Linked DNA regions of Homo sapiens: region 2 is linked to region 1. The links come from fine-mapping of genetic effects on gene expression. A gene starts in region 1. The other region holds a variant in brackets. All regions are shown on one strand. Distances are from middle to middle.

What was found. PIP is the estimated chance that this variant, and not a neighbour inherited with it, causes the effect. A credible set is the group of variants that fine-mapping cannot tell apart.
Region 2: its variant is the best candidate, but not a certain one, in a credible set for the expression of TRAF3IP3 in whole blood (TOPMed, PIP 0.53).

Annotation. Positions count from the first base shown.
Region 1 is chr1:209,753,121-209,758,503 of GRCh38, forward strand. TRAF3IP3 (TRAF3 interacting protein 3) reads left to right here and starts at 2,933. Exons shown (of 17, transcript NM_025228.4): 1 at 2,933-3,189. RefSeq lists enhancers at 2,656-2,815, 3,096-3,505.
Region 2 is chr1:209,849,114-209,854,496 of GRCh38, forward strand. UTP25 (UTP25 small subunit processome component) reads left to right here. Exons shown (of 12, transcript NM_014388.7): 12 at 2,091-5,383. The coding sequence ends at 2,334. Among named protein-coding and RNA genes, the nearest start is that of UTP25, 24 kb to the left of the region's middle. The variant T/TA (reference allele first, on the strand shown) is at 3,066.

The DNA of each region.
Region 1 (5,383 bases):
TCATGGGGGACTACACAGGGCCCAGCATCTATCAAGGAAACTGTTTCAGAATATGACCATCAAAAAAGGGAGCCGTTGTTCCCATTGAACCTGGAAATGATGAGGAGAAGCAAAGGATACTGGCCACTAAAAGCCTGGTGCCCAGCTCAAGAGCAGCCTGAATTAAACCCTCTATTGGAGGCCAGCTGATGATTACACTACAAATCTCTACTTGAGCTTAATTTGGTAAATTCATTTTCTTAAATCCATTTTATCTAGATTTTAAAAATCATTAGCATAGTTACACAAATGACTCTCTATAATTAATTTCCACCGTATCGTGGCTACTTTCCATGTATCATTCCTAAACTTTTATAATGTCTTTTCTCTTTTTTAAATTGATTTGGCTCGCTGATATTTTATTTTATTGATTTTGTTTTCTATTTGTATGTCTACCATTCCTCCCCCTGCCAGATGCACACACAAAACTGAATTTTTTTTATCAATTTTAAACAGGATTCTAACTTATTATATATTCTCCTTTTATCATTTCAAAATTCTCACCTCCTTTTTTTCTGATCATTTTTTAGCAATTCATTTGAAAATAAATGAATAGGAAATTTATTTTTAATCTTCTTGATTTAGGTAATGAAAATGTTTAAAGCTAGGAATTTTCCTTGCATTCTGCTTGGCCATACCTCACAGATTTTCCTCATAATGTTGCCACTATCACCGTTTTCAATGCATTCTTAATTGCAGATTTGAAATTCCCTCTATCTTTTCAGAGTAAATGGGAAGAATTTTTTTCCAAGAAGTTAAAGTGTTTCTTTCTTCCATCTTTTGTTATTTATTTCAATTGTATTGTACTGTGGTCAGAAAATCCTGCCATAATAGATCAACTTTTCAAAACATATACTGAGGTTTACTTTTTGATCCATATGGTCAATTTTTTTAATGTCTCGTGGGCATTTGAAAATAAGGTATATTTTCTATTCTCAAAGTTCTGTGTGTGTGTGTGTGTCTTTTTCAATATAGATAGATAGGTATGACAACCTTATTAATTGTTTTGTTCTCAGAACACAATGTTAAGGGCTCAAACCTACTGTCAAGCAAACCTGGGTCCAACACTTTCTGTGTGATCTTGAGCATATCATTGACCACTCTAAATCCCAGTTATCATGGGATTAGTATCCCAATGACTGCGGACTTTGTAGACATTTCTTTCTGATGTTTAATGGAGTCCAAATAGTAGGTCTCTATAGGAACTCCTATTAAAATCTCCTGTCTTTCTTTACGCTCTAATGCCCTGAACTCCCAGAATCTTCTCACTCTTCTATGCCAATAAAAATTCTCTGGCCAGGCGTGGTGGCTCATGCCTGTGATCGCAGCACTTTGGGAGGCCGAGGCAGGTGGATCACCTGAGGTCAGTAGTTTGAGTCCAGCCTGACTAACATGGTTGAAACCCCATTTCTACTAAATACAAAAAATTATCCAGGCATGGTGGCGTATGCCTGTAATCCCAGCTACTCAGGAGGCTGAGGCAGGAGAATTGCTTGAACCTGGGAGGCGGAGGTTGCAGTGAACCGAGATCGCGCAATTGCACTCCAGCTTAGGCAACAAGAGTGAAACTCCGTCTCACTCTGTCGCCCAGGCTAGAGTGCAGTGGCACATTCTTGGCTCACTGCAACCTCTGCCTCCCAGGTTCAAGCGATTCTTGTGCCTCAGCCTCCCAAGTAGCTGGGTTTACAGGCACATGCCATGACATCCGGCTAATTTTTTATATTTTTGGTAGAGATGGGGTTTCACCATGTTGGCCAGGCTAGTCTTGAACTCTTGACCTCAAGTGATCCACCCACCTGGACCTCCCAAAGTGCTGGGATTACAGGTGTGAGCCACTGTGCCCGGCCAAAATTCTCTTTTTCTGACATCTTGGGCTCCCCAAGCCCTCTGTCCTCTACTCATTCCCATCTCTATGTGTCAAGCTCCAGACACAGGGCCTTGAGCTGTTGTCTCTCATCCTGAGTAAATGCCACTTGTCTTCAGTCCTAGTGCTTGAGAATCCATCCTCTGCTTTTCCCTGCCGATTCCTTGTCCTTTTTCTCCTCAAAGAACAGAGAAAGAAGCAGAAGCAGAGAAAATGGTGACAAACTCTCCACATGTTAATAAATGTTATCACAGCTATTTTTAAGTCTCATTACCTGCCTCACATGTGTCAAACCTTAGAATTCCAAAGAGCCACATACATCACCCAACTACCACAGTGAGTAGCATCCAGACAAGGTGAATTTTACAAGGTTACAAAGCTGCTCAGTTAACTTGTCCCAATCCAGTTTCCTCTCCACTATTTTAGCCTGAACTTCTTGGGAATTTCCTGGCTGCATCATTTGTGATGGCTTCATCTTAATGCATGCAAATCAGTTCCCTTTAGTTTTTCCCTAAATTTCCTAGTCCGGTTGACCAGATAAAAAAATGTGTAGAAGACTCTGCCTTCTATTCCTTCCTTCATCCCCCAGCTACCCACCTTTACACTCCCTCCTCATTGCTCCAGAAAGGAGCAAATCCAGAGTTGGTCTCATTCCAGAATCTGAGAAAGACACCACCTACTTCAGAAGAGCAGAAACTCTTTACAACACCAGGATTGGGAAGAGGTGGCTAAAGAAAAAGGAAAATCCTTACACAAAGAACTACCTGATACACATGAAAGCCTACACTGAGAACATCTCATCTAGGTCTTACCACCAAAAAGGCATTTTTTTCCCTCTCATAGAAACCACAAAGGTCTGAATCTGACCCAGAGGACTATCCTTTTCTAATCATGGAAAGGAATCTTGACTTGAAACTGTCCAAGAGCTCCGACCAATCCAGTAGCAAGAGAAAGGGTGGCCGGGGTGCCTACTGATGGGAGGAGCTCCTGAGCCCAGCCCTGGAGGCCTCAGAGTTCAGGGGCCCACTTAGATGATACCAGAGAGCAAGAGAGAGGAACTGGGGTTTGCGAACCTTGTGGCTTTGTCTGTTTCCTGTTTCAGCAAGGCTGCTGTGCAAAAAGAAAGACGGTACCAAGAAGGGACGTGTTAATGGGGCCCAGACCTATGGATTGAAAGCGTGTGCTTTACCCATCTGCTGTCTTGCTCCATCTGAGACCAGAGCCAAGATCTGCCCAGGACTGGAATGCTTTCCCGAGTGGCTTGAGTTGGAGCCTGGGACTAGGAGGTAACTGAGAAGGAGGATGCTTTTGTGTCCAGGTTTGGGAACTCCAACTTCGGGGTAGGGCAGAAGATGCTCTACCATCCCAGCTCCCCTGGGTGGAGAGTGGGTGGCATAGTTTAAGGGTGTCAGGGGTTTGGGTAACCAAGAAAGTATCCTGTATTGGTTTCCTGTGGCGCTAGCCATGGCACAGGGTACAGCTTGCACCACTCCTCTGTTCCAGTAGATTAGATTACATTAGATTAGGAGTGAGTCAAACGACTTAGAGTTCAGGCTACCCAGTGATATGGGCATGAATTAAATGACCTTTTACAGTTTTCTTCAAAGCAGGGATCCCTGAACACAAGACTGCCTTCCCAGCAGCTTAAGCGCAGGCCCCTCTCCCCTCAGTTCACACTGAGAGCTCTGGGCCAGGAAGGCCAACCCATGCAGGAAGCCATTCATTGTCTCCATTACAAACATGGCCAGGAAGTAAAAGCGAGACTCAGAAAGGCATGTCAAGCCACAGTCAGGTGAGGAGCCATGCCCTGTTCTCTCTCTGCAGCCTGAGAGACCAGGCTGAGCCTTCCCAGCCAGTAAACCTTCTTCCTCCAAGCTCTAAGTGAGCCCAGTCATGCTGCCAGGGGGGAACCTGAGAGATGCCAGAAAGCCTGGGCAGTGGCCAAGTGATCTTTCTTTGAACCCTACAGGGACCAGTTCCCTTTTCTTTAGCAGCCTACCCCTGTCAGCCGTCCCACATACCTTCTTGTTTTCAAGCAAGTCAGTAGGGTCCAGATATCCCAGAAACCTGGGTAGGGTTCTATGCAGCATGCTGCACCAAATCCTAGCAGGTGTGGTAGCCAAGGCATCTGGGAACACTCCCCTCTCTAAGGAGCCATTTCCACTGCAGCTCCTTTCTTGGGTAAGAAGGCTCCATGTCTGCCCCAAGGAAGCAGAGAGCAGAGCAGCTGTGTGTTTCAGTGGACTAAGGTTGGTGGCCTGGGTGGAGAGCCCAGAGAGACCTCATCTCAGGCACTGTCTTCTCCCCCACAGCCCTTTCCTCTTCGCGGCAAGAAGGTAGGAGGATTCTCAATGTTCTGCCTCCACTACAAAACCTGTGGGGAAGCTGAGCCAAACAGGGAGGGGACCTCACACCTTATGTGTGACACAGGCAGACCCCATCTCTTCCTTACCTTTCGGCTTGGTGTAATTGGGATGGCAATTATGTCCAGACCACAGAGAAGCCTTTCTCCTTATAGCCCAAACCCAGAGGTCAGAAGTAAATGTGACTTCAGCCTGGGGCCAGCATCCCCTCAATCTGGTAAACAATATACTCTGTCAAAGAGAGAGAGGGTTGAGAGGATGAGAGAAGGCATTCTTGGTCCTAGAAGTGCTAGTTTAGCTTGGAGCCTTTGTCTTACAGCACCAAGTCTTCAATATCCAACATCGGCATAACAAGGATAATATTCGCAATTACTTTTGCACCAACCTAATAGGAATACTTTATGTCTTTATTATTAAAAGGTAACATTTATTGTGTGCTCCATGCCAGGTGCATGGCCTGCATTTTGTCATTTAATCCTTATAACCTACAAGGCAGGTCCTAGCCCCATTTTATAAATGAGGAGACTGGGGCTTAGAGATGTTTAATAGCTTATCTAAAAACACACACAGGTTGTAGGTGACAGAGCCAGGACATGAGTCCACGCAGTGTGACTCCAAGAGCCAGGGTTCTCCACTGCAATCCATGGCAGAATAGCCAGGGGCTGTGGCTCAGGGATGCTGTGAGTGTAGGTTCTAGACATGGAGTTCACATGCACATAATCCTGCGTCTCCTCCATTCAGTCATTTATAACAATAGACATGGGTCTCTCAGACCCTTTCTTTTAAGTCTTTAAATAAAGAAAGTGGCAGGGAAGAAGTCAAGGGACCACCCCCTATGCCCACTCCCACCCTTATCCGAGAAGAAGAAGTAAGGAAAAACAAAGAAGAGAGCCATTCAGAATGGGTATGTAGAGGACAAACATTAATAACCTCACATTTCTGCTTGGAATCAATGCTGCCTGACACCAGAGTATGCCCCTCCAACCCTCAAGAGTCAGGCATTTGAGTGTCCAGGGCTTGACCACACAAAACTCCTCTCAGGGAAGAAGACTGCCCCACCCATGACCCTGGGGAATGAGTGGTAGGATCAGAGAGAAAACAAGAATCCTGCAGAGAA
Region 2 (5,383 bases), 96 kb after region 1:
TGCAAGGCATGAAGTCGGGGGGAGGGGGTTCTCCTGGTCCAGCTCAATTTTTGGCAGGCCCTTTTTATTCCAAGCTTTGGGGGTGAGGTTTTCTCAGGGTTCCTGCCCCGCTACCTCCGTGGCAGCCAGACTCCACCTTTTATCTGTGAGGGATCTTTGTGGTGAAGTGTATACAGCTTCTTCCCTAATCGAACTCTGCTTGTATCAGTGCAGGAACTTGGGCTGAACAGGTTTCTTACCCCTTCCTCTGGGGCAGAATGCTTTTTACTGGGTACAAGTCTTGTGTGGGGGACAAATGGAAGGGTGGGGGTTTACTGCCCTTCCCTTAAGGGCAGACAACTTTTGCTTCTACTCACCCTCCCCCTCAAGTGGTTTGCCTTTGCCTGCCTGCGATTAGGGGTGGGGGACAGGGTGGCTCCTTTCTTCTCCCCCGTGTGCTTCACGTTTTTACCATGGGTTTCACGATAATGGGCCTGGGAAGTAGGTGGGCTTTCATGTCCCTACCACCAGTGGGGTCTCCCTCGGGTCTTCTGCTTTCTCCAGGGCTCCCAGTGCAGGCCTCTGGAACAAGCTCATGAGTGGATGTGAACTAAAGGAGCATCCAGGGATCCCTGGGGTCCTGAAGTCAGGCAAGCCTATTCTTGCCCTTTAAGAATGTGTTAGAAGTGTATCTATTTTCTTACTACCCACTTTTTTGGCAGAGGCCATCTTTCTCCTGTGCTCTGCCTAAGGTGCAGTAGTTCCTGTGTCCCGTTTTTCCTCAGAAGGGCTACTCTTTGGAACTCAGTCCATGGTGAGCTGAAGCTGGCTCACACTGGCTCATGAGACCTGGCTGCACATCTCTGGGTCAGCAGCATGACATTGGTAGCTTGAAACTGACAAATCCTTCAAATTAGCACCCTCCCTTTCTCCCACTGAGGACCAATTATTAAACATACACCAGCTCACCACCTAATTCAGGTTACCTGATTGCTTCATGATGGTAGCTCTTTGGGCTCAAGAAAAGGAACATTTTTGTATAATAGATTATCTGACTTTTTCTTATTGGTATAGGAGCAATATTCTCGAGTTTTATACATTCTAAGCAGAAGTAGAACTCAGTGTTGTTTTTGTTTTGAGAACTAGTGAGGTAGAACAGTTTATTCAAGTTCATTAGCCGTTAGAATTCCTTCTTTATGGAAAGGATGTTGAAAGGTGAACCACATAATAGATCACAGTCATGGTTTGGGAAAGGAAGGTCTCCAGAGAGATCAGGATGAGCTGTGAGGGAAAAAGACAAGGAAAACTTACCTTCTGTGAAAGAAATAAAATCCCCAAGGGAGTCTAACGTCTTCAGTGTATGAGAGAAACTTAACAGGAAAAATCAGAAGCTTGTCAACATATAAAATCTTTTGTTATGGAATCCCACAGGGGAACGGTTGACGTCAGCCTGACTGAACCATACTGCAAGTCAGTCCCTTGGGTGTACACCACCCCCCACCACAGGGCGGCACTGTGCAGCTGGGAAAGAGATGGAAATGCATACGCTGTTGAAACTAATTGCTTTCTCATGATGCCTAGTGGGTCCTTGGGCAGGGTTTTGTAAATGGATGAACTTGGGACGTCTGCCATGGAGTTAACATGTATCCAGAGTGGCAAGAAAAGACTAATGGGAGTGTATTTACAATCTGTACAACTTATTTTATGTACTGGGTCTGACCTTGTCTCCATTCTTTTTTGCCTGATTATAATAAGGCTAATGTTCCATTTTAAGTGCCTGCTTTTTAAGTTTTCTGTGACAGATTTTTAAATCCTGGTCTACTATTCTTTCCCATGATACCTCAGCCTACCCAGTGTAGGATCAAGAAATGTGTATTTATTTTATCATTTTCTTAAGCCAAATATTAGGAATTCGAATATGTTGTCATAAAAAGAATTCAAATATGTTGCCACCTCAAGTTAGAATAACTTTTGTTCTGTTACTTGTGCCACTGTTTTTCTCCATTAGCAGGAAGCAACAAGCATGAACTATGCCTCTGTACAACTCCTAGGTAGTTTTTCTAGAACTTGTTTCTCAAGTTGACATAGCTCTTTCTTTCCAATTCTGACAGGTATACAATAAAAGGCATCAGGAACCTGATTTTCTATGAACTGCCGACATATCCACACTTTTACAGTGAAATCTGTAATATGCTGAGAGCCACCAACAGAGGAGAAGAGGCCACGTGGACCTGCACTGTTCTCTACTCCAAATATGATGCCCAGAGGTTAGCTGCCGTGGTTGGTGTGGAGCGGGCGGCACAGATGCTACAGTCCAACAAGAATGTCCACCTCTTCATTACTGGAGAAAAATGAAATTTTGTTGGGCAGGAAGTGGTATTTGGCATGATACATAATGTTTGATTCTATGCCATTTGGACCCAATTCTGATTACTTACAGAAGAAGGACTGATACAAAGAAAGTGCATGAGGCAATGTCAGTATTATCTGACATCTTTCTTTTCAGGTCATGTGTCCCTGAAAAGTTAAATGTAAACCAGATTTTGGTAAATCCCATCTTTCAGAAGTGAAGAGGGGGCTAGAAGGACTCTGAGAAGTTGGTAGAAGAAAACTCCCACTTGTGAATATTTTTGTGAGACATAAATTCTTTTATTACGATTTACCTCTAATTTATTACACTTAGTAAATTCTTCCAGATTTTTCTATTTGTTTGACACTTCCTTAAAGTAAGGAATACACATTGCTTGCGAGAACTGGTTATGAGACATTGGAATACTTCTTGCTGCTACATGTCATCTTAATTTTGGATGGCATGGGTTTTGTAAAACTTATTCTGCCCCAGCCAAACTTTTTTGAAACCTTAAATAGTCTACCTTAATTCAGCCTAGAAGAGTACATTGATTTACTGATCTTTTTTCATATTCATAATACTAAATGTTTTAGTTTTGTTCAAATATATGCTTAAAATCACGTTATTTAAAAAACACATCAGCTCTGTCTCAAGAAGTAATTTTGTTGAAACTCCATGTTAAAATATCCATCTTCAACAGTAGTGTCTTCATAATAACTAGTCATTTTTTCAGTCA[T/TA]AAACAGATGCAAATAAAAAGGAAATTACACTTTTAAAAACATTTTTATTTTGAAACATTCTCAAACAGAAAAATTCCAAGTACAGAACCTGAACCATTTGAGAGTGAGTTGCCAACCCAGTGGGCCTATCACCTTTAAATACTTTAGTATATATTTCCTGTAAACAATTAAGGGTATTGTTTGTGATTAGGAATGCCCCACCAATAAGGATAATGTGAATATTTCAGAATCCAAAAAAATTCGAAACACGTCTGGTCCCAAGCATTTCAGATAAGAGATATTCAACTCATCCTAGTATGGACTCGTAGTTTCTTCTTTTATTCAATGGGTTACGGTTTGTTACATCATTATTTCTTTAGATGCGTAACTGGTCTCAAATATGGCCGCTGGGAGCACCTTCAGGTTAGCCCCTGTGTACTTTTGACATGTCCCCCATCTACTTGGGCACTGCTGTATTTTTTGACAATGAGACATTCCAGGTTTCTCTACTCCAGCCCTGCTTGCTTTTAGTAGGAAATTATTATAAAAGGTTAGATTGGAGTGCTTACTATTGTGGTGCCACTCATCCCAGGCTCAGTGGTCAGAACTTGGGAATTGTGTACATGTATGCACACACATATGTACACACGTTGTCTAAATTTGCTTCACATTAATATCTAAATTTACTTTCATATCCATATATTGAAAACCATGAATTCACACCAGTACCTCCAATTCTAGTCCAACAACACAGGATTGCTTCTCATTTTCTTTCCATATTGATAACTCCTTTCTCAGACAGTGGCTCCCATTATCCTCAATGTAATAACCCATGATTGGTACAGATTTTTTTTATCCTTGGGCACGCTTAAAATTACTTAGCAAAAACAAAAAGTAAAATCAGTTTTGAAGTAATATTTCTGCTAAATATTTAGACATTTTTACTTCTTTTTCTTCAGCATGGTAAGTAAAACCATTTATTCCATATTTAGATGGTTTTCTAAATTTCAGAAAATTTAGTTAGATAAAAGCCGACCGAACCCATGCTACAAAGAACTTTTTGTATCTATAGGCATGCCCTGTGGTTACTGGCGTAATTGTGCTGCTGTTTATCATAGATCCTGTATATTATGAGAATAAGAAATGAGTTTATTTACCTCATTCAGAAATGTGAGGCGAAGGGACTGTAATTACCTGGATCTTTTTTTTTTTTTTTGAGATGGAGTCTCGCTCTGTTGCCCAGGCTGGAGTACACTGGCATGATCTTGGCTTACTGCAATCTGTGCCTCCCGAGTTCAAGCGATTCTCGTGCCTCCGCCTCCCAAGTAGCTGGGACTACAGGCGCATGCCACCATGCACAGCTAATTTTTTATATTTTTAGTAGAGATGGGGTTTTGCCATGTTGGCCAGGCTGGTCTCAAACTCTTGACCTCAAGTGATCTGCCCACCTCAGCCTCCCAAAGTGCTGGGGTTACAGGCCTGAGCCGCCACGCCTGGCCAATTACCTACATCTTTTTCTACTGCCATATTCTTTTGCCTGTGAATTGTAGTTCATCTCGTGGTTTCCATTATTACTATTCACACGACTCCCAAATCTCCAGCTTCTCTGGCTCTCCACTCACATGTGAGTCTGGATTTCAAATCCATGATGTAGCCCCAGAAATAACCATTTTATTAAGCACCCCTAGTGATTTTCATGCTGGCATAGAGCCAAACCCAGCCAACTGCTTCTTGCCTGCAGAGAACACTGAGGATTTCAAGTGTGAACAAAGTAGTGTTGCTTTGTTCCTGGCTCAGCACCTGAAAAGAAGGTAAGCCTCTGCAGTTAGCCCTGGCTCCTTAGTGCATTGCAGAGTGGAGTCTCTGCAATGGTTTTATTAAAAGGATGCCTTGAAGATCTGGTCTCTCTCAACACACAATAAGCGAGAAGAGAGGCTACTGAAATACGGATGCGTGAGCTGGAATTACACACTACCTTGATGTTAACAAGGCTCATTTGCAGCAAGCAAGTGCCTATATAGGGTCTGAAATATAGACAAAGGATGGTCCCAATCCTGGAAACAGTGGAATTAAAAGGTATGGAAAGGAACTTACCCAGAAAGTAACACTTTTAAATGTTTTTTCTTTTCCCATAGTTAAAACAACCAGCTTAGCACTTTTCTTTTTGAGAGAGAAAAAGCTTTGAATCGTGGATGCTTCTCACAGCTGGCTGCACCACGTGCAGTGTTCAAAAAACAAGAACAAGCTAATCATAGAGAACCAGCAGCAGCTAAACAGCCCTCTGCTTGCTTCCAAAGGGCTTATAATTGAGCACAGATGGTCCTAGTGGAGATGGGGA